Linked DNA regions of Homo sapiens. The protein of the gene in region 1 purifies or fractionates together with the protein of each later gene. This does not show direct contact. Each region holds a gene or a part of one and is shown in the gene's direction. Other genes may lie near its edges.

Region 1 (3,500 bases):
ACAGGAAGAGCAGTGAGGTGGAGTAAGCAAGGGGAGAATGATAGGGGATGAGCAAAGGGTCAGCGGTAGAGAGGAGTGGATAGATTAGGTCCTATAGGCCCTTGTAACAGCTTTAAATATTACTCTGAGTGTGATGAGAGCCACAGGAATGGGAGAGGTGTTAAATAGAGAAGGAACATATTTAGAGTTCAGTTTTAAGTTTAATGACTCACTCTAGTCACTGCGTTGAGAATCTAACATGGGGGTGGTGGTGGTTGGTGTGGAGCAAGAGTGACCTACTAGTAGGCCATTGCAATAATCTGAGAAAGAAATCATGGTGGCTTGCACCAGAGTAACAGCATTGGAAGAGGTGAAAAGTGGTTGGATTCTAGATATATTCTGAATGTATGTAATGTGTTAGAAAGAACACAAGGGACATGCCATGATTTTTGGCCTGAGTAAACACAAGAATGAAGTTGTTATTAGCTGGGGTTGGGAAGACTTTAGGAAGAGCAAGTTTTAGGGAAAAAACAGGAGTTTGGTTTTACACATGTTAATTTTTGAATGTCTGTTTGGTGTCCAAGTGGAGATGTCAAGTAAGCAGTGTAGAGTGGGGCTGGGGAGTGATCTGATCTGCTTATATACATTGGGAGTTGTTGGTGTAGAGATGAGATCACCAAGGGAGTGAGTGTTGACAGTGATGAGGTCAAGGAGTCCTGGGTCACTCAAATATACAGAGGTCTTTCAAAGAAAACTGAGTAAAAGTGGGCGACGAAGTAGGAAAACTGAAAGAGACTCCAGAAGAAAAGATAAATATATGTCAAGAGGAATAGAATGATTGATTCCGTCAAATGCTGCTTGTGGTTAAGATAGAGACTGAGAGCCAGCCACTGGATTTGACAATGAGGAAGTCATTCAAAGTGCCGGGAAAAACATCTCGGTTGAAATGGTTTTAGAGCAAATGAGAGGGGAGAAAATAAGAGATGGTATTTGTAGACTTGACTCTTTGGGGGAGTTTTGTTATAAAGGAAACTGAATAAGAGGTAACTGTATGGAGAGTGAGATGAAAAGAAGGGAAAGTATTTTTTTTTTGCTATGGAGAATATTAAGGCATATTTGCAAGATGATGTAAATGATGCAGTAGTCAGGGAAAGATTGGTGTTGCGGGAGGTGGGGGCATTTCCTGAAACTGTGTCTCTGAATGAGTAAGCAGGGATGGATCCAGCACACAGACAAGGGCTGATATTGGATAAAGGTGAGGACAGTTCATGGCTATAATGGAGGAAAGACAGAGGAGAGGGCACACCTGCAGGGAGTGGTTGGAGATGGGGCTGAGAACAGGTGGAAGTTTTCCATTAACTGCTTCTATTTTATCAATGAAATAGGAAGCAGGGTCAACAGAGTGAAGGCAGGAGTGGAATTGTTGAAAGTTTGAGAAGAGGGGAGAAGGTATAAAATTGTCGTTTGGGAAAATGAGAGAGTGAAAGGACTAGGGCAAACTGAGGGAACACTGAGTAGCCCTTGGGGCTCACTTAGAGCTTAAAGTGAGACCAATCACTGTATATGTTATCTTGTTTTTGGTTTAGAGTGCAGGGTTAGTTGGATTGATTTTTGTTTTCCAGTGATCCCAGTGGGAACAGATGGGAAATGGATTTGAGGATATATGCAAGGCAGTATATAGATGCTTGGTCTTGGAATCTGCTGAGGAGGAATGAAGCATAGTAAAAAGATGACATAAGCAGTGGATTGTATATGCTGGCAGGGTTGCTAGAGTAATGGTACTAGAGTAAGGGAGATGAAAGGATAAGAGATGATGATTTGGTAGCTGGGGTGTTTGAGGTAGATAGTAGGAGGGGTACTATTACTGAGAAGCAGTGGAAAACTGAGATGGAGTGGATGACAAGGTCATTGGAGGAGTCCAGAAGAAAGGTGAAAATAGGAGTGAAACAGTCACCTACATGATTACTGACATCACAATGAACCATGACAGATCCTGGGAATTACAGTAAACCAGACGCTAATGGATATCTTTAGGAAGGGACATAATGGCCTAGGATTCTGCCTAGGGGCTTTTAGGGGGAAGGAAGAACAGTGGCCTGTAACATTATAAATGTAAAATGTTGACTATAAGTTCTGAAAATTCTATTTAATATGTATAGAACGTAGGAGATGCAACTTAAAATAGTTCATGGTGGGGGTTGGGAATTTTGTAATTAGCTAAATATGAGCTAGTGGTATGGTGAAATTACTAAAATATCTTATGTAATTTCAGATAGTATTAATAGAAAGTCTCAGGTGCACATTATACGAGGTAATAGCTCCCCTAGATTCTGTTCTAGGCAGGCCAAATTTGGATTCTCATACTAAAGGGTAGGTGCCATGTTTTGAGAGACATTGACGAGCTATAATACGGTGAGAGCAGGGCAATTGGGAGGCTTTTGGAAAACATGCCATTTGAGAGATAGTTAAAGAAATTAAGAATTTTTATCCAAAAGAAAAGAATGAAGATCTGAATGTTAAATACTAGAAGAACTTTCATGAAGCAAAGGAAGAAGACTTGACCCAGCTGATTTCACAGAGCAAAATTAGGACTAGTGATGTGGAGAAGTAGATTTCTTCTGAATGAAAGAAAATGTTCTAATAATTAGAACTGATCAGAAAAGACAGATTCTCTCCCAGTTAGTGATGTTCAAGCAAAAGCCAGGTTGCCATTTTAATGTGGGGAAAGCAGAAAGGAAGTCATTAGTTACACTAAGATGTTTATATCTTCCTAAAAGACAACAGTGCCCCTAACTTGACATTGTTATTGTTACATTATTACTTGTATTAGTCCATTTTCACACTGCTGATTAAGAGATACCCGAGACTGGGCAATTTACAAAGAAAAAGGTTTAATCAACTTACAGTTCCATATGGTTGGAGAGGCCTCACAATCATGGCAGAAGGCAAGGAGGAGCGAGTCATGTCTTACATGGATGGCAGCAGGCAAAGAGAGAGATTGGGCAGGGAAAATCCCCCTTATAATACCATCAGATCTTGTGAGACTTATTCACTATCATGAGAACAGCATGGAAAAGACCTGCCCCATGATTCAATTACCTCCCGCTGGGTTCCTCACATAACACGTGGGAATTCAAGATGAAATTTGGGTGGGGACACAGCCAAACCATATCATTCTGCCCCTGGCCCCTCCCAAATCTCATGTCCTTACATTTCAAAACCAATCATGCCTTCCCAACAGTCCCTCAAAGTCTTAACTCGTTGCAGTATTAACTCAAAATTTTATAGTCCAGTGTCTCATCTGAGACAAGGAAGTCTCTTCTGCCTATAAGCCTGTAAAATCAAAAGCAACTTAGTTACTTCCTAGATACAGTGGGGGTACAGGCATTGGGTAAATATAGCCATTCTAAATGGGAGAAATTGGCCAAAACAAAGGGGCTACAGTCCCCATGCATGTCTGAAATCCAGCAGGGCAGTCAAATCTTAAAGCTTCAAAATGATCTCCTTTGACTCCGTGTCTC
Region 2 (3,500 bases), on another chromosome or scaffold:
AATTCACAGATGAGGAAACTGAAGCTTGGGCATGCTGATTCCCTGGACGGGGGCCACACAGCTAGTTAGTGGTAAAGTTGGGGCCATAATTTAGTTCTCTAAATATTGGTAGGCCCCTCTCTGCCTTCTCACGTTCCCCTTCATGTTAGATGTGAGAGCTCTGAACTCTCAAGATGCAAGGCTCTGGGACTCTGTATATGGTAAGTAGGATGTCCATTGCGTATGTGCTGGGCAGTTTCGGATACGAGATATTTGTTGGGAGCTCGGTGCATTGGCTCATACCTGTAATCTCAGCACTTTGGGAGGACAAGTTGGGAGGACCGCTCCCAGCAGGATTGCCCAGCAGTTTGAGACCAGCCTGGGAAACATAGGGAAACCCCTGTCTCTACAAACAGTAAAAAAAAAAAATTGCTGGGTGTGGTGGTGCATGGTTGTGGTCCCAGCTACTAGGGAGGCTGGAGTAGGAGGGCTGTTTGAGCCCCAGAGGTCAAGGCTGCAGTGAGCCATGATTGCACCACTGTACTCTAGCCTGGGTGACAGAGTTAGACCCTCTCTCTCAAAAAAAAAAAAAAAGAGATTTGTTGGGGAACAAGCAGGTAACAGCAGGTAGGTAGGTGGGCACACTGAACTAGAAAGCTTAACAATAGGAAGGATTTTTTTTCTACTAGAAAATCCTGGTCTATTTTAATTTTCCTACATCTTCCTTAGAATCCGGGTTGAGGGTTTCATATTTGTATCTCATTGATTCTGGGGTGATGTGTAACAATGTGTAATGTCTCTGTGTCTTACCTCTTTTTCTCTTTTTTTTTCTTTCTTTTTTTTTTTTTTTGAGACACAGTCTTGCTCTGTCGCCCAAACTAGAGTACAGTGGCACAATCTTGGCTCACTGCAACCTTTGCCTCCCGGGTTAAAGCTATTCTCCTGCCTCAGCCTCCTGAGTAGCTGGGATTACAGGCACCCGCCACCGTGCCCGGCTAATTTTTATATTTTTAGCAGAGACAGGGTTTCACCATCTTGGCCAGTCTGGTCTAGAACTCCTGACCTCGTGATCCATCTGCCTTGGCCTCCCAAAGTGCTGGGATTACAGGCGTGAGCCACTGCACCTGGCTTTCCTTTTTTGAATGAAGGAAAGAAAGAGCAAACCTAATTCTCAGACCCCAGAAGATTTGAAAGATCTTTGGAATTTCCCTCCTCCCCACCCCAAGAAAACCCAATGTAATCTCTGGGACTGAGGAGAGGAAAGGATCAGTTTTCTTTGGACTGTGATTTGCATGTGTCAGGGCCTTCCTGAACCCTGGGGCACAGTTGAGTCTCCATGAGGACTTAGTTTTTGGGTGGCTGGGGTTTCAGGCATGCTGGTGAGTTGAGTGCTAGTCTGAGACCAGTGTGCTCCTGGTCTCCTGGCCTGTGGCGTGACCGCAGAAGGTCACTTACAGACACAAGGGCAAGTAATTTAATGAGCATTTCCTGCCTTGCATCACTGGAAACCTGATCTCGTTCCTCCCAGCCAAGGAAGAAGGTGGCCCGTAGCAGCTTTTCCCTAAGTCTGACCTCACAGTGATGCAAGGGCCTTGAAGGCCATGGTAAAGATTTTGGCTTTTACTGCTAATGACATGTACATCCGTCTGGCTGCTGTGTATAGAATAGACATCAGGGAGACAGGCTCGAAGCAAGAAGATCAGCATTATTTCATTAATAACCCTATGAAATTGATCCTAGAATCTCTGTTTTACAGAGGTTAAGTCACTTATCCAAGGTCACATGGCCTGTCAGTGCAGGAGCCAGGATTCGAACCCAGGCTGTTGAACACCAGTGTCTGTGCTCTTAACTACTGCCCTAGGCTCATCTGTGCCCTGAGTACTCCTGTTAGCTTTTGTTTCTCTTCTATCTTGGCTTGTGGGGCGTCTTTCTTTCTTTTTTATTTGAGACGGAGTCTCGCTCTGTTGCCCAGGCTGGAGTGCAGTGGCTCGATCTCAGCTCACCACAACCTCCGCCTTCCAGGTTCAAGCGATTCTCCTGCCTCAGCCTCCCGAGTAGCTGGGATTACAGATGTGTGCCACCACTCCTGGCTAATTTTTGTATTTTTAGTAGAGACAGGGTTTCACTATGTTGGCCAGGCTGGTCTCGAATTCCTGACCTTGTGATCCGCCTGCCTCAGCCTCCCAAAGTGCTGGGATTACAAGCGTGAGCTACCGCACCCAGCCGGGCATCTTTCTTTAGTAGCAGATTGTGCAGAAAAAGACACTGCACAGGGAATCAGTATTCTTGAGTTCAGGTCCTAGCTTTGCCATTGTCTAGTATCTGAATTTGGTGAGCCACCTCTCTCAGGTTGAGTTTCTTTATCTAAAAACAAAGGCTGACAATAATAATAATCATAACAACAACAATAACAATAATAGCTAACTGCGTGAAACACAGATTATCCCATTTAATCTAAATATCAACCCATGGCCTGGCGCAGTGGCCCATGCCTGTAATCCCAGCACTTTGGGAGGCTAAGGAGGGCAGAGCACTTTGAGCTTAGGTGTTCAAGACCAGCCTGGGCAACATGGTGAAACCCCATCACTATAAAACAAACAAACAAACAAAAAACAAAAAAAAACCTTAGCTGGGCATTGGTCGCTCGCTCCTGTAATCCCAGCTACTTGGGAGGCTGAGGCTGAAGAATCGCTTGAACCCAGAAGGCGGAGGTTGCAGTGAGCCAAGATCGTGCCAGGGTACTCCAGCCTGGGTGACAGAGTGAGATCCTGTCTCAAAAATAAATGAATGAGTGAATGAATGAATGACAACCCTGTTTTTTAGATGAGGAGATTGAAGCTAAGAGATGCTGAGTAACTTGAAAGTCATGGAGCCAGAATTCGAACCCATGCCTGCTGTATAACTCAGATACTAATACCGTGGGCTCCAAAAGTATCCTGAGACTCTTAGCTCTAGAAGAAAAGTTTTGAACTTGCTGGGTCCCTTTTCATTTATATAGTGCTTTCACACAATGCACTATCAGGACTCTTAGTTGCAAATGAAAAAAACCCAGTCTGACTGGTTTTAAGCCAAAAGAGGGTTTATTGAGTCAAGTCTAGTGGCAAATGGCTTCAGGCAAGGCTGGATCCAGGAGCTCAGGTGATGTCTGTGTCTGTGTGTGGATGTCTCTCTCTCTCTCCTCTGTGTCAGCATTATTCTCAGGCAGTCCCTCCCATGTTGTGGCAAAGATGGCCAGGTGGCCCTCAGCTGACATCTGTCAGCTTAGCAGCTCTGGCAGAAACAGAGCATCCTTTCCCCCTGTGGTTTCAGCAAGCGTCCCAGGGCTGACTCTCATTGGCCCAGCTTGGGTCATGTGACTATGCCTTACTTAACCAGTCACTGTGGCACTGATTGGCCAGGTCACGGTCACATATCTGCTCCTGAAGCCTAAAAGTGGGATCAGTGCCACCACACTACATGAAACGAGTTGGGGAGGGATGGTCCCATGAAGGAAAATCAAAAAGCTGGTAGTTTAAAAAAAA
Region 3 (2,652 bases), on another chromosome or scaffold:
GAGCATTTTTTCATGTGTTTTTTGGCTGCATAAATGTCTTCTTTTGAGAAGTGTCTGTTCATGTCCTTTGCCCACTTTTTGATGGGGTTGTTTGTTTTTTTCTTGTAAATTTGTTTGAGTTCATTGTAGATTCTGGATATTAGCCCTTTGTCAGATGAGTAGGTTGCGAAAATTTTCTGCCATTTTGTAAGTTGCCTGTTCACTCTGATGGTAGTTTCTTTTGCTGTGCAGAAGCTCTTGAGTTGAATTAGATCCCATTTGTCAATTTTGTCTTTTGTTGCCATTGCTTTTGGTGTTTTAGACATGAAGTCCTTGCCCATGCCTATGTCCTGAATGGTAATGCCTAGGTTTTCTTCTAGGGTTTTTATGGTTTTAGGTCTGACATGTAAGTCTTTAATCCATCTTGAAATAATTTTTGTATAAGGTGTAAGGAAGGGATCCAGTTTCAGCTTTCTACATATGGCTAGCCAGTTTTCCCAGCACCATTTATTCAATAGGGAATCCTTTCCCCATTGCTTGTTTTTCTCAGGTTTGTCAAAGATCAGATAGCTGTAGACATGCGGCGTTATTTCTGAGGGCTCTTTTGTGTTCCATTGATCTATATCTCTGTTTTGGTACCAGTACCATGCTGTTTTGGTTATTGTAGCCTTGTAGTATAGTTTGAAGTCAGGTAGCATGATGCCTCCAGCTTTGTTCTTTTGGCTTAGGATTGACTTGGCGATGCGGGCTCTTTTTTGGTTCCATATGAACTTTAAAGTAGTTTTTTCCAATTCTGTGAAGAAAGTCATTGGTAGCTTGATGGGGATGGCATTGAATCTATAAATTACCTTGGGCAGTATGGCCATTTTCACGATATTGATTCTTCCTATCCATGAGCATGGAATGTTCTTCCATTTGTTTGTATCCTCTTTTATTTCATTGAGCAGTGGTTTGTAGTTCTCCTTGAAGAGGTCCTTCACGTCCCTTGTAAGTTGGATTCCTAGGTATTTTGTTCTCTTTGAAGCAATTGTGAATGGGAGTTCACTCATGATTTGGCTCTCTGTTTGTCTGTTATTGGTGTATAAGAATGCTTGTGATTTTTGTACATTGATTTTGTATCCTGAGACTTTGCTGAAGTTGCTTATCAGCTTAAGGAGATTTTGGGCTGAGACAATGGGGTTTTCTAGATATACAATCATGTCATCTGCAAACAGGGACAATTTGACTTCCTCTTTTCCTAATTGAATACTTTTTACTTCCTTCTCCTGCCTAATTGCCCTGGCCAGAACTTCCAACACTATGTTGAATAGGAGTGGTGAGAGAGGGCATCCCTGTCTTGTGCCAGTTTTCAAAGGGAATGCTTCCAGTTTTTGCCCATTCAGTATGATATTGGCTGTGGGTTTGTCATAGATAGCTCTTATTATTTTGAGATACGTCCCATCAATACCTGATTTATTGAGAGTTTTTAGCATGAAGCGTTGTTGAATTTTGTCAAAGGCCTTTTCTGCATCTATTGAGATAATCATGTGGTTTTTGTCTTTGGTTCTGTTTATATGCTGGATTACATTGATTGATTTGCGTATATTGAACCAGCCTTGCATCCCAGGGATGAAGCCCACTTGAACATGGTGGATAAGCTTTTTGATGTGCTGCTGGATTTGGTTCGCCAGTATTTTATTGAGGATTTTTATTTTTAATTTTTTGTTTTGTTTTTTGAGGCGAAGTCTCGCTCCGTTGCCAGGCTGGAGGGCAGTGGCACGATCTCGACTCACTGCAACCTCCGCCTCCCAGGTTTAAGCAATTCTCCTGTCTCAGCAGGAGTGGTTGGGATTACAGGCACATGCTGGCATGCCTGTATTTTTGTATTTTTAGTAGAGACGGGGTTTCACCATGTTGGCCAGGATGGTCTCAATCGCTTGACCTCATGATCCGCCCGCCTCGGCCTCCCAAAGTGCTGGGATTACAGGCGTGAGCCACTGCACCCGGCCTACATTTTAATTTTTACAAAAAACTCTTAAACTTTTTTGTGAGCAGAAATTCTCAAGTATCGAAGCGTGGTGTTTTAGGCTCCAGAAGAAATCCACTATTACAGTGTCCTAGTAGCCCAGACATATGTGTTAAATGACATGTATATACTTTGTTATTCTTTCTAATAAATAATACTCTTTTACAACTCTGCCTTCTGAGTGTCTCTTCCAACTCCCTATCACATGTTCTACTTACCAGTTAATGGCTGCCACATCCAGTTTGGAATGACCAAAGCAACAACAAACATCTGAGGGTGAACAGAGGTTATCTTTTTTCCTTATCCCTATTGCTGGAACAGAATGCCAAGACATGACATGTATGGCTTCCCAGGAAAGGAGAAGTGGGAAAACCAAGATCAAGACCAACCTCTGCCTCCAAGCTGTATTTTTCTTCTTTCTGTTGGCTTGACTATTGTGTAAGTTAGAATTATCGAATAAACTCTGCAGAAGCCTGCTAGCGATCCAAAACATATTTATGTTTATTAAATTTGAGTTATCTTTTCAGCAATTAAAGTTTATCATTTAATCTTTAATTGACTTAGTTGGAAATTTCTTTGCCAGTTTTCCAAAACACCATAGAATACAGTAACTTGTATCATAAAACCATGGACCTTTTTTGCTATTGGTTTCCCCCAGTATTATAAGA
Region 4 (2,944 bases), on another chromosome or scaffold:
ATAATCCGGCTGCCTGGGCACCACACTGAAGGTAATGGGATAATCCGGCTGCCTGGGCACCACAGTGAGGGTTATGGGATAATCCAGCTGCCTGGGCACCATAGTGAAGGTAATGGGATAATCCAGCTGCCTGGGCACCACACTGAAGGTAATGGGATAATCCGGCTGCCTGGGCACCACACTGAAGGTAATGGGATAATCCGGCTGCCTGGGCACCACAGTGAGGGTTATGGGATAATCCAGCTGCCTGGGCACCATAGTGAAGGTAATGGGATAATCCAGCTGCCTGGGCACCACAGTGAGGGTTATGGGATAATCCAGCTGCCTGGGCACCACACTGAAGGTAATGGGATAATCCGGCTGCCTGGGCACCACACTGAAGGTAATGGGATAATCCGGCTGCCTGGGCACCACAGTGAGGGTTATGGGATAATCCAGCTGCCTGGGCACCATAGTGAAGGTAATGGGATAATCCGGCTGCCTGGGCACCACAGTGAGGGTTATGGGATAATCCAGCTGCCTGGGCACCATAGTGAAGGTAATGGGATAATCCAGCTGCCTGGGCACCATAGTGAAGGTAATGGGATAATCCAGCTGCCTGGGCACCATAGTGAAGGTAATGGGATAATCCAGCTGCCTGGGCACCATAGTGAAGGTAATGGGATAATCCAGCTGCCTGGGCACCATAGTGAAGGTAATGGGATAATCCAGCTGCCTGGGCACCATAGTGAAGGTAATGGGATAATCCAGCTGCCTGGGCACCACAGTGAGGGTTATGGGAGACGGGGTTTCACCGTGTCAGCCAGGATGGTCTCGATCTCCTGACCTCATGATCCTCCCACCTCAGCCTCCCAAAGTGCTGGGATTACAGGCGTGAGCCGCGGCGCCCGGCAGAGGTGAGGGCTTTGGGGGAACGGTTGTGGGGCCTGGAGTGTGGAGGCGTCAGCGCAGGCCTGGCAGGAGCCCTGAACCGGGACAGTGGGGTCCTGCAGCTGCTGGCCTGGGGTGTGGAGACCCCCAACACAGGGGAAGTCTCCAGGACCCCACACCACTAACAAGATGAGCCTTGTGCTCCCTTGGGCTCTAGAGAGGAAGCCCCTCTTAGCCCTCAGCCCCTCTTTCCTCCCTCTCCTAAAGTAATTTGATCCTCAGGAATTTGTTCCGCCCTCATCTGGCCCCGGCCAAATCCCGATTTGACAAATGCCAGGAAAAGGAAACTGTTGAGAAACCGAAACTACTGGGGAAAGGGAGGGCTCACTGAGAACCATCCCAGTAACCCGACCGCCGCTGGTCTTCGCTGGACACCATGAATCACACTGTCCAAACCTTCTTCTCTCCTGTCAACAGTGGCCAGCCCCCCAACTATGAGATGCTCAAGGAGGAGCACGAGGTGGCTGTGCTGGGGGCGCCCCACAACCCTGCTCCCCCGACGTCCACCGTGATCCACATCCGCAGCGAGACCTCCGTGCCCGACCATGTCGTCTGGTCCCTGTTCAACACCCTCTTCATGAACCCCTGCTGCCTGGGCTTCATAGCATTCGCCTACTCCGTGAAGGTGCGTATGGCCCCAGGGAATGCTCAGAGGGTGCCGCTGAGCCTGGAGCTCCACCTGCCCACATGCTGCCTGGGGTGGGGACTTGTGTGTCCCTGTGACTGTGAGTTTGTGTGCACCTCTGTCCCGTGTGTGCCCACGTCAGTGGCTTTGTCTGTGTGATCTGTGTGTGTGTGTGGCTTGGGGAATCTGCCCAGTGCAGGTTTAGGAGGAGGCTCCAGGAGGCTGGCTGGCTGGCTCAGAGTCTGTCCCCGGCTATCCACTAGCCCAGAGCAGTTCTCCCTATAGCCCAGTAAGAAATTACACCTTCACCTTCCAGACTGGCACCCAGGCTCTCCCAGAAAGTGAGAAGGGAACTCACAGGTGACTTCACCCCATGGTGGGGAGAACAGCCTGTGCTGAGGTCAAGGCAGAAGGAGGATGAGCCCCGAGGCTCCTGGAGAGTCTGAGCCCGGGTGAGGAAGGGGAGGAGGTGGTCCCTGATCTCAGGGCGGGGAGAGCCAATGAGGAGACGGAGCCATAGCACGCGGCTCTCAGCTGGGGGATCCTGGTCCCCTCACCATCTCCTCTCCCCCAGTCTAGGGACAGGAAGATGGTTGGCGACGTGACCGGGGCCCAGGCCTATGCCTCCACCGCCAAGTGCCTGAACATCTGGGCCCTGATTCTGGGCATCCTCATGACCATTCTGCTCATCGTCATCCCAGTGCTGATCTTCCAGGCCTATGGATAGATCAGGAGGCATCACTGAGGCCAGGAGCTCTGCCCATGACCTGTATCCCACGTACTCCAACTTCCATTCCTCGCCCTGCCCCCGGAGCCGAGTCCTGTATCAGCCCTTTATCCTCACACGCTTTTCTACAATGGCATTCAATAAAGTGCACGTGTTTCTGGTGCTGCTGCGACTTCACCTGGGGAGGGGTCTGGCTGAGGGTTCGGAGCGTGGTTCTGAGACTGAGCAGGTTGGTCAGCCCCTGCACTGCCCCTTCCGGCCTCTGTGCATCTCTTGGGGACCGGGCAAGTGCTCAGGCCTTCTGGTTTCGGGCCTCCTGCCGTGAGCAGCAGCTGGATCCAGGACCCTGGGAGGAGTTCCTGTGTCCTGCAGGTCTCAGCTCCTACTCAACGTGGGCTCTTTCCGGGAACGTCAGTGCTGAGTCCGGGACACCCTGGGCCCAAGGCCACGCTCGCGGCCTGTCGGCAATCCAGGCTGTCGGCTCAGGACAGAGGGAAGGGTTAAGCCCCCAGCAGGGCCAGGGAGGGGCAAGGTGGCACCGGCTCCCCAGCTGCTCCCAGGCCCTGCTCTGTGGTGCTGGGGACCTGGCTTTAGTTCCTCGGGGTGGAGGGGGCACCGCGCTGCCTGCCTCCGAGCTGTCTGGAGCAGCCAGTCCTGCAGAT
Region 5 (3,500 bases), on another chromosome or scaffold:
ATTCATTATTTTAGCTGAAGGGAACTTTCCTTCATTTTACAAATGAGAAACTGTAATTTAAGATCACATAGCAAGTAATCTTTTAAATATGTGTACACATATATATGCACTTTATTTAAAAATCTTATAAGCCATTATGTTACCCCTTTGACTGGATAGCCCATCCTACCTAGTGCTCTAGGTTGGAGGAAACCCTTTTAAACACACATCATAAATTTCCCGTCATCACCCTCATCTAGGAATCCTTTAAGTATGACTTCATGCCCAGTATATATTTATCTAAAATATATAAGACCTTGTGAAGTTAGCTCTCCTAATTCATTAAGGGTAATATGCTTGGAAGACAAGTCCGTATTCATGTTAGCTACATTTCTTGGATTTTTATCTGTTTTGATCAGCCTTGTCTAGCTTGTCCATCCAGATGAAATTGTCTAAATTTATTAGGTTCTCTCTGTTAAAGGAATATCACCTTCCAGTCATCTCTCAGGCTGTTTCAAATTGTCTGATGGTAGAGGCCTTTCTCTAGTGTAAACCATGGAAGATCTTTAGCTTAGGATCTCCCAACTGCAGGTACAAGATGACATTGTACAAAGTTAATATTACCAATATAGAGTGTATTAGTTAGCTTGGGCTGCCGTAACAAAATACCATAGGCTGGGTGGCTGAACAGAAATTTACTTCTCACAATTCTGGAGGCTGGTAAGTCTAAGATCAAGGTGCTGGCAAGGTAGATTTCTTTTTGAGGCCTCTTCTCCTGGCTTATAGGTGACCACCATCTCACTGTGTGCACACATGACCTCTTGTGTGTGCCTGGGGAGACAGGGAGCATGACAGCAAGCTCTCTGGTGTCTCTTCTTGTAAGGGCATTAATCCCCTTGGCCCAGGGCCCCACCCTGACTGCATTTAACCCTAATCACCTCCCAAAGTCCCCATCTTCAGATACTATCACTTTAGGGGTTGGGGCTTTAACATGAGTTTTGTAGGAAATATAAGCATTCAGTTCTGTAACATACAGTGATTAAGGAAATGGGCTCTGGAATTGAATTGCCTTAGTCTCTCACTTACTAGTTGTGTATACAAATAACAAGTAGCCCTCACTTAGGTTAATTTTAAGCAAAACCAATAATGGTGTCATCCTAAAGGCAGTTAATTTTTTTTTTTTTTGTATTTTGGACTCTGGCATTTGGACATTGGCACAGGACTAATGTCTTCAAAGAGCAATGTACAATGACTGTAACAACTTAGAATGTAAGAGAAAATGCATAATTCTTTAAAAGTGTTTCTTTAAATTGAATATATGCCAATAACAAAAGATTAAACATTTGTAGTTGTTAATTGTATTCAAATTCAGCTTTTTGTTTTTGGCCTGAATAGAACAAGACAATTTACCTATGTGAAAACCTGAGTGAAAGCTTGGGATGTGATATGTTAAGTAGAACAGTATTTTAAAGCCACTTTGATTCATAAGTTTCTTTAACATAAACAGGTTGTATTGCCTCTTGAAAAATGATAGGTTCTATGGATAACATTTAATTAGCTTTATAATACATATGATGATTTAACCTGAATTAATGGTACTACTTTTTCTGACTTCCTTTTGATCTTGGCCCTTTCTCTGTAAAGTTTTTTGTTAACTTATTACAAACTGAACCCTGGCTTGCTCCTCTTATCTTTAGTCTCCTTTCAATCTGTCTTTATTTCTGCTGAGGTTATATTCTATTTGTTTTTCAGATGAGACCCTTTTTGCTCTTCCTGCTGCATCTGAGCCTGTGATACGCTCCTCTGCAGGCAAGTTCTTTCTGCCAGCCTTTTATCCTCTCTGTATTCTAACTTTAACTCTTTAGTGTGTTAACACTATGCAGAGTAGTTTGGGTTTACTAAAAATTAGCATGGTTCCGAGAATGTTTTGTCTACTGGAAAAGTTGAAATGTGCATTTTATATGGTATGCCCAAGGGAAAAATGAGCAAAATCTGATGAATACTTGGAAGTACATAAGGAATTCTTGGACCCTTGAATTACATTTACATATTTACCATTCCCTTTCTCCAAATACAGTTTGAGTATAGCCAGAAAGGCTTTCCTGTAAATAAATACCAGTCTATGGCATTTACCCAGTGCCCCTTCTTTCCTATGCTGTCACCGAAACTCTTTTCACAGATATTCTTCTCTTCTCTAAAACTAGCTATTAGTATCTTAGTTGATAACATTTGAGGTTTACTCAGACTTGATTTGTCTTTGCACAGCATGTAATTGCCTCTGTAGCCATGCATATGTTATATTTACAATAGCTTAATATTTTCAGTAATGATTGAAGTCTACTCTATTGTTACTTATTAATTGCTATTAACATTTCATTTTAGTAAACAGTAAGTCTTTACTAACACTATTTTGGATCTGTCATAAAACTTGCATTAACTCTGAGAACACTGGCATTCTCTAACTTTCCTTTCTGTCCATGGTCACAGAAAATATGGACTTGAAGGAGCAGCCAGGTAACACTATTTCGGCTGGTCAAGAGGATTTCCCATCTGTCCTGCTTGAAACTGCTGCTTCTCTTCCTTCTCTGTCTCCTCTCTCAGCCGCTTCTTTCAAAGAACATGAATACCTTGGTAATTTGTCAACAGTATTACCCACTGAAGGAACACTTCAAGAAAATGTCAGTGAAGCTTCTAAAGAGGTCTCAGAGAAGGCAAAAACTCTACTCATAGATAGAGATTTAACAGAGTTTTCAGAATTAGAATACTCAGAAATGGGATCATCGTTCAGTGTCTCTCCAAAAGCAGAATCTGCCGTAATAGTAGCAAATCCTAGGGAAGAAATAATCGTGAAAAATAAAGATGAAGAAGAGAAGTTAGTTAGTAATAACATCCTTCATAATCAACAAGAGTTACCTACAGCTCTTACTAAATTGGTTAAAGAGGATGAAGTTGTGTCTTCAGAAAAAGCAAAAGACAGTTTTAATGAAAAGAGAGTTGCAGTGGAAGCTCCTATGAGGGAGGAATATGCAGACTTCAAACCATTTGAGCGAGTATGGGAAGTGAAAGATAGTAAGGAAGATAGTGATATGTTGGCTGCTGGAGGTAAAATCGAGAGCAACTTGGAAAGTAAAGTGGATAAAAAATGTTTTGCAGATAGCCTTGAGCAAACTAATCACGAAAAAGATAGTGAGAGTAGTAATGATGATACTTCTTTCCCCAGTACGCCAGAAGGTATAAAGGATCGTTCAGGAGCATATATCACATGTGCTCCCTTTAACCCAGCAGCAACTGAGAGCATTGCAACAAACATTTTTCCTTTGTTAGGAGATCCTACTTCAGAAAATAAGACCGATGAAAAAAAAATAGAAGAAAAGAAGGCCCAAATAGTAACAGAGAAGAATACTAGCACCAAAACATCAAACCCTTTTCTTGTAGCAGCACAGGATTCTGAGACAGATTATGTCACAACAGATAATTTAACAAAGGTGACTGAGGAAGTCGTGGCAAACATGCCTGAAGGC
Region 6 (3,500 bases), on another chromosome or scaffold:
GCTACCTCTTGGGGTTACCCAGGGTTCGCTGTCATCCCTTTTGTGCTCTGTGTATTTGGGTGAACCATGTTCCCACAGCTTCGACTCTCACCAATATGAAGCGAGTCCCAGATTGGCATGTTAAGCTAGCTTGAGCATGCTCCTGTGTTCCAATCAGTTACCTGCAGTCTGGTGCGCTTACCCGTGCCCTTTAGGCCAAAAAAACACCCCAAAATAAATCCAAAATTGATTTTAGTTTTCACCACCCACCCCATATCCGCTTCATTGTTAGCGAAGATTTGTCCGTTTTTTTTTGGCAGTGGTTCCACCGTTCATGGAGATGTTGGAGCAGGGGTCTCACGGTGATGCCAGGCTCCCGCACTGCCCACATGCAGGCTGTCACCAGATCCTGTTGCTTCTTCATGCTGTGAAATTCCACAAAGGTCCGCTCTAGTCACGCTGGCCTTGCCTTGCTTTAGAGCCCAAAAGTGGCAAAATGGTGGCCGGTGTGCCACTTCTAGCAGTAGGCAGCAGTGTTGTTGGCCTGAACAAAGTATATACAACTTGAGTTAATATTTAGAAATCTGGAGATGCCACTTGGATGTATAGCTTCTCCTAAAAGCCAGAAGACCTGGATGAGGCAGTGCGTGGTGGCTCATACCTGTAATCCCAGCACTGTGGGAGGCTGAACCAGGCGGATCACTTGAGGTCAGGAGTTCAAGACCAGCCTGATCAACATGGTAAAACCGCGTCTCTACTAAAAATACAAAAATTAGCTGCGCCTATAATCCCAGCTACTCGGGAGGCTGAGGCAGGAGAATCGCTTGAACCCGGGAGGCAGAGGTTGCAGTGAGCTGAGATGGCGCCACTGTTCTCGAGCCTGGGTGAAAGAGTGAGACTCTGTCTCAAAACAAAAACAAAAACAAAACAAAAAAAACCTGGAATAGGAAGCTTACATTCCCATGTGGCAAACCTCAGCTGCTGCTGGGTTTCCAGTGCCTGAATACACTGGAGGTAGGTTGCTTTCTGGTTCCCCCAGACCTGTGACCCTTGCTTATAGTGGCGTTCTGGCTCCCATGGGCTTCAGAGCTAGAGACCCTAGGCTGAGACGATCATCGACAGCCTGGGAATGCCTAGTGCTTACTGCACAGTGTCGTGCACCTCATGTTGCATCCCTTCTAACTCTCTTCCATGTTATTGCTGGTGTGACTTTCCTCCTGCTGCCCCAAATCCAAGTCTTCTTGGGTCCCTCCTAATAAAATTCAATGGCTCCCTCTTGATCTGGGCTTAAATCCCTGACTCTAAAGGAGTGGCCATGTCATATCACAAGTTTGGTATCTCAAGATTGAAAGATGAGCTCTCCGCTATCTTTATACAGTGTTGTACCCGAGTTTCTGAAGATGCTTTTGAGCTTCTGTAGGGTAGTTAATACAGAGTTCTAGTGTTGATGACAGTCCTGCTGTTTACAAAGCATTTCTACAAGCCTGACTACTGCCCCACTTCCTCGCAGCCCCCCTGGGTGGAGATAGGGCAGGGTCGATTCTATATCCCAAACAGCAGTGGGGAGTCTGTAAATATGGAGGCATAGGCCATCCCAGGGAGTCCCCCACCCTTGGAACATGGGGAACCTTGTTTTACATGTGGTATCCAGAGTCATACAGTGTGTTCCTGAGGTCATTTAGACACCTTAGGGCAGAGTCTTGACCCAGAACTCAGTTCCTGTCAGCATGCAGCCAGGGAACTTTCCACAGTGCTCCATGGGCTCACCAGGCTGCTGGCCATTTGTAATGACCCAACAGAGTCAAAGCTTTCTTCACTCCCTTCCCATCTCCTTGCCTTGTCCCCTGCCTGAAACATTCTTTTCTTGCAAAACTGAACCTCCCGTAAACTGCACTGGTACCGCCCAGTGCTTTTCTGCCTTTGCTCCTTCTGTACCTCTGCCTGGAATTCCCTTTCTCCTCCTGTGTTCATTGTCTGGCTGATTTCTCCTTTTTCAAGACTCAGGCTCAAAAAGGCCTTGCTGGCAGTCACCACCCCAGCCCTCTGTGGCACATGTGCAGTGTACACACACGTCACCCCTCCCCGTGCCTACCTCAATGATGGCAGTTTTTTGTGTTGTAGCAACATGCCCTATCCAGTAGACTCTAAGCTCCAGAAAGACGTGCCTGTGTTTTAGTTTTATTTGCACCAGCGGTGGTGTGTGGCCCAAAGGCAATTAACAGATGTCTGAACTAAACCATATTCATATTTTTTGTAAGTTTACTGCATGCTTTATGGAAGAGTGTTTGTATTCCAGACTCAAAGGGGAGCTCTCTCTGCCAGACCTCCAGCCCTCATTTTGGTACTAGCAAATTTAATATATATCCTCAGACATTTTAAATTTTTGATTAACCTTGTCTTTTGAGATAAAACATTACTTAGAGAAAAGCGGAAGTCTAATACAGAAGCACTTGTGTGCCTGTGTTCACTTCAGTTATCCTCATCTGAACCTCCCTTTGGCATGGTTCTGCCCTCCTTGAGGTCTGTTGGCTGGGCTGCACTCTGCATTTCGTGGTTTTACAGGGTAGGAGAATGCATTTTGGTTTATTTCTATTAACTTTGGTGATGGTGATATATGACCTCTTGGTGACTTTTTTTTTTTTTTTGCCATGGAACTTTTTTGGCTGGTATCGTCAGTCACATTTGGTGGAAAGAGCAGGCTGGGAGAGGGTATGGGCTGCACCACCAATAGAGCGTGTAGGTTACCATCTAGAACTCAGTTTCCTTGTCTGTATAATGGGTATATTGAAATAAATGATCTAAAAGGTGTCTTATTTTTAAAACCTATAAATTCTTGGCTCAGTTTCCTTTTGATGTGGCTTTCTCATAAGTGTTAAGTCTAGATAAAATTTTTTCGTAAATGCATTATCCTGTGCTCATACACCTTAAAGTTCTTGTCTCTCACTTTTTTAAGCCTATAAAATCATTCAGCATTATATTCAGAAACAGCATCATGGGCCAACATGAAGATTTAGTTTGTATTCCCACTTAGAGCATTTATAAAAATTTTAAATAAATTAGGTCCCATATACTTGAATCTTGTCAACCTGTTCTCCACACATAAATGTGCCCATCTTCTCTTTGCAAACCATCTTTCCTCATGAGTAGATTGCACGCCTAATCTGAAAACCAATGTTGGGTTTTTAAAAAATACCCTTAGATACAGAATGGAGTCAAATGCAATAAACTACATCTTTAGGTTATCTCTTGTCTGCAAGTTCCCAATTTAAGAATACTGAGAGATTAGTATGATTTTATTTCTCTTTTGAGAAATACCACCTCCCATCCAACAGGCCAAGTCTATTTCTACAGTCAGTGAGTCTTGCCTTTATTCTGCTGTTAGATTTCTAGGTCTGGATGTAAGCCCAGTCCAGGGAAGTCGGCATCCCTTCTGGGATTCTTTCTGTGCATGAGGATGGCCACTGAGCCCAAGCAATCCTCTATTTGTAATTCCACTCGTATGTTTTGGCAAACATGTCCTA
Region 7 (3,500 bases), on another chromosome or scaffold:
GTCATCATGAAGCTATTTATGAAGGAGAAAGGCCGGGGCAGGGGGTGGGGGAAACAATCCAATCTTCCTGATAAAACCACACGATTCACAAGTTGAGTGGTCTTTGAAAGTTCATAATAGAGACACATACAGAAAAATGTGTTACAGTGAAAGTTTGACCTATATGTTCTTCTATATTGATGCCATGTCTCCATGATTCTAAAACAAAAGACTTTGAATTTACAGTTAGTAATTCATAAGGAAACAGATAAGGAGATAAGTGTAGTGTCTACTGCACCTTAAGCTGTATGAAAGCAGAGCCATTGTAGCCACAGAGCCTAATTCAAGGGTGACACAGGACATGCTCAGTAAATATTTAGAGACTGGCTGCGGTAGGTAACCGAATGACTAGATAGACATGAATATTAATATTTAGGAGGTTGAACCATTTGTGCATATATTAAGTTTACTCAAGCCTTATTAGCAAATAACAAAGTTTAATATGCTAGTGTATTGTAATTAAACATGGCTTTTGTGGGTCAAAAACAGTCATATTTGGGGAATTTCATATGGTTCAACTTCATTGGTGTAGTTCCAGAGTAAGCATAACATATATAAATACTGAAGTATATTCATTATTTTAAATATTTAAAATAATACTTACAGCAATGATGATAGATATCTTTAAAATCATCCATAATTCTACCATCTTCACATCCCATTAATTTCATTTATCTCTTTCTTCGTAGTCTGTATGTAATTTTAAAGCTATCTTTGTTTTATTATCAACAAAACATGGAACTGAACATTCATCAGGGATGTTTCAAAAACTGGTAATTCAGCCCCAGTAACTTAACTGTCTCATTTTATCTAAAGGAGAATTTGTTTGAAACAAATTTGCTAGTTGCAAATTAGCTCTGAGAACAGGCACAGCTTACGTTAAGTGAAAATTTTACTTTCCCTATTTCAATACAGCATAAGAACATACAAGTTACAATTATCTAAGTACAATACATTGTTTCTTTCTAATATATATTTTATTTAATCAGACATCTATTTACCTCTCCTTGAATTGCAGACTCACAGATGAATGCTTCTCACCCGGAAACAAACTTGCCAGTTGGGTATCCTCCTCAGTATCCACCGACAGCATTCCAAGGTAAAGCAGTTGCTGAAAGAAGAAAAAGTAAAATTAATTGAGAGACAGAGAGAGAGAGTGAGAGTGGGAGAGAGAGAGTAAGAGAGAGAGAGAATTGTGCATTTGTTTTTATTTTAGTAGTTCTTTTTTTAAAATTATATTAATGAAATTTTGGCAGCCTAGTTGTTCTTGATTATTTTTATTTGGCTATCATTTTGCACAGAAGTAATTTTTATTTATAGAGGACAGTAAAGGTATAAAGAAAGCTAGTAAAAACAACATTAGGTTTACATTTAGCAAATGAAATACAAGACTGTACATCCTAAAATACAAATGTTAAGTAAAATATTTTATTGATCCTCCATCTGTTCTGAAAATTATGATCATTTAATCACATTTAGGAAATTTATTTCTGATAAACTGAGTCATGTAGTAGCTTGGCATGTGTTCAGTGAGAGTCACATCAAAATAGTAAGACTGCTTAAAACTGAAAGTAATAGAAATTCAGTTACCTGGGAATAATTCTCATTTTAATTTTATAATGTATATGAAAGCTTTATTTTTATATATATGCTGATTCCACCCTGTATTTCTAAGAAAAGTAATTGAGTCATTTGACTACATACATAATTGAGTACATTTTTTCTTTTCAACCAATGCCTGAAAGAATTCAGAGATTTTCATTTAGGCAAATGCAGTTATCAAAACTACTAGAACTTTAAAAATAGCAAAGTCCATGGCATGTCCAGATTTACAAGCAGACAGGCTACCCACATCTTGAAAGAGCATCCTGAGGATTTAGGACCAAAGGGAATGTGGTTTGGATAGAAGGATGTACCCACTGTGTTTTCTTCTCTGAGTAAACAAATGTGCTTAGGAGCTGAATGTCATGTTTAATTGCCTAGCAAGAAACCTCCCTGCGGGTCCCGGATCTCATCCAGATGTTTGCAACTGAAAGAATATGAGCTAGATAAGCTCAGACTCTCAAGTGGTGGCTCATGGCAACCTTGTCTGCACTGAAGTATCATCACCCAGAAGCACTTAAAAATAGTAGTGCAAAGGCACTATTCCAGAAAAATTAAATCATAGCTTCCAGTGGTGGGACTCAAGGAATAGTAATCTTTTAACACCCCAAGTGATTCTAAGGTGAAGCCAGGGTTGAGAACATCTGCTCTAAATTCTTATAGGGTTGGTGTTTGAAAAATCATTAGTAAGTCTATAATATTCATCCAAGGCACTTAAGAGAATGATTTAATCCACCCTATCACTAATTAAAAGTAGATATACATAAATAATACAGTTCAGATATAATCAGACTTGAGAGTTTGTTTATATATATAGATATATATGGCTCTACAGCTTGATTTTGTTTCTCAAGTCCAAGATTACATATAGCACAAGTCTTAAGATAACGATGCTAAGAGTAAGGATAATTTAAAATTGAGATCTTACCATGCTTTAGTCATTGTTTTAAATGTGGAGTTAATGTGGACTAACACTTTTAATTCTTAGAATACTCTTATGAGGTAAATACTGTCAGTTATCCCCATTATGTATGTGGGAAAGCTGAGGCATAGGAAGTTTGTATCAGGCTTCAAGTTCTGCCTACTTTAAAAAAAAAATTCGTATAGGTAAATGTGCTGGTAAACCAGGTTCTGCCTTCTGTACTAATAGTTATGTGGTAGTTTAAACAAGTTGCAGTACCTCAAAGCCTCAGAGTTCCTATCTATAAATAAGGGTGATATTTTCAATGTAGGTTGCTTTGTAGAGTAAATGAGAGTATATGTAAAACACTGAGCACAATGCTTGCAAATTATAAATGACAAGTATTTGCTAACATATTTAAAATATTTTAAATCAATTAGTCTTTACATAAATGATACTAGTATTCAAATTTCAGGTAATTCTTTATGCTTAATTCATTGATTTGAGGAGTAATCCATCATACTTTCAGAGTCTGGGGAAAATTATGATGATGTTAAAAATGTAAGAAATTAACTCACATCTCCATATCCCCACTGGTCTGCCTATGGTCTGGTTTCTGTGCTGACCCCAGTGATCTTTAAAAATGTAAATCTGCTCATATTACAGAGAGTGTAGAGCCCCTATTTTATTAGTGGCCTATTACTTTTAGGATAAAGGCTAACACTAAACTCAGGATGGCCTTTTCCATGCTCTCTCTTTAACTTCCTCTTGAGCCTGGCTTGCTGTTATTCAGCTAGACTGGCTATTTTTCAGATTTTTAAAGGCCTATGTTAGTTACTGTCCCAGGACGTTGCTCTGAAATGTTCTTTCTGTGACTCTGGCCTCCTGAACTCCTGTGCATCCTTCAGATCTCAGCATAAAGGTGACCCCTCAAGGCAGCTGTTCCTGCTCCTTCCCT

Evidence for each region.
Region 2: the proteins of RTN1 (region 1) and TMEM120B purify together in Homo sapiens (affinity purification with mass spectrometry; 2 studies listed by BioGRID and IntAct, with this or other methods). This does not show direct contact.
Region 3: the proteins of RTN1 (region 1) and FAM241A purify together in Homo sapiens (co-immunoprecipitation; 3 studies listed by BioGRID and IntAct, with this or other methods). This does not show direct contact.
Region 4: the proteins of RTN1 (region 1) and IFITM3 purify together in Homo sapiens (affinity purification with mass spectrometry; 2 studies listed by BioGRID and IntAct, with this or other methods). This does not show direct contact.
Region 5: the proteins of RTN1 (region 1) and RTN4 purify together in Homo sapiens (affinity purification with mass spectrometry; 4 studies listed by BioGRID and IntAct, with this or other methods). This does not show direct contact.
Region 6: the proteins of RTN1 (region 1) and SERPINE2 purify together in Homo sapiens (affinity purification with mass spectrometry; 2 studies listed by BioGRID and IntAct, with this or other methods). This does not show direct contact.
Region 7: the proteins of RTN1 (region 1) and PLSCR1 purify together in Homo sapiens (affinity purification with mass spectrometry; 2 studies listed by BioGRID and IntAct, with this or other methods). This does not show direct contact.

The regions. Positions count from the first base shown.
Region 1 is NC_000014.9:59,860,777-59,864,276, reverse strand, and holds part of RTN1 (reticulon-1), read left to right. Parts: intron 1-3,500. UniProt on the Homo sapiens protein: Inhibits amyloid precursor protein processing, probably by blocking BACE1 activity.
Region 2 is NC_000012.12:121,715,752-121,719,251, forward strand, and holds part of TMEM120B (transmembrane protein 120B), read left to right. Parts: intron 1-3,500. UniProt on the Homo sapiens protein: Necessary for efficient adipogenesis. Does not show ion channel activity.
Region 3 is NC_000004.12:112,193,105-112,195,756, forward strand, and holds the end of FAM241A (uncharacterized protein FAM241A), read left to right. Parts: 3' UTR 1-2,152; downstream 2,153-2,652.
Region 4 is NC_000011.10:319,176-322,119, reverse strand, and holds IFITM3 (interferon-induced transmembrane protein 3), read left to right. Parts: upstream 1-1,259; 5' UTR 1,260-1,306; coding exon 1,307-1,555; intron 1,556-2,129; coding exon 2,130-2,282; 3' UTR 2,283-2,444; downstream 2,445-2,944.
Region 5 is NC_000002.12:55,026,452-55,029,951, reverse strand, and holds part of RTN4 (reticulon-4), read left to right. Parts: intron 1-1,731; coding exon 1,732-1,788; intron 1,789-2,466; coding exon 2,467-3,500. UniProt on the Homo sapiens protein: Required to induce the formation and stabilization of endoplasmic reticulum (ER) tubules. They regulate membrane morphogenesis in the ER by promoting tubular ER production.
Region 6 is NC_000002.12:224,032,787-224,036,286, reverse strand, and holds part of SERPINE2 (glia-derived nexin isoform b precursor), read left to right. Parts: intron 1-3,500. UniProt on the Homo sapiens protein: Serine protease inhibitor with activity toward thrombin, trypsin, and urokinase. Promotes neurite extension by inhibiting thrombin. Binds heparin.
Region 7 is NC_000003.12:146,531,108-146,534,607, reverse strand, and holds part of PLSCR1 (phospholipid scramblase 1), read left to right. Parts: intron 1-1,057; coding exon 1,058-1,138; intron 1,139-3,500. UniProt on the Homo sapiens protein: Catalyzes calcium-induced ATP-independent rapid bidirectional and non-specific movement of phospholipids (lipid scrambling or lipid flip-flop) between the inner and outer leaflet of the plasma membrane resulting in collapse of the phospholipid asymmetry which leads to phosphatidylserine externalization on the cell surface.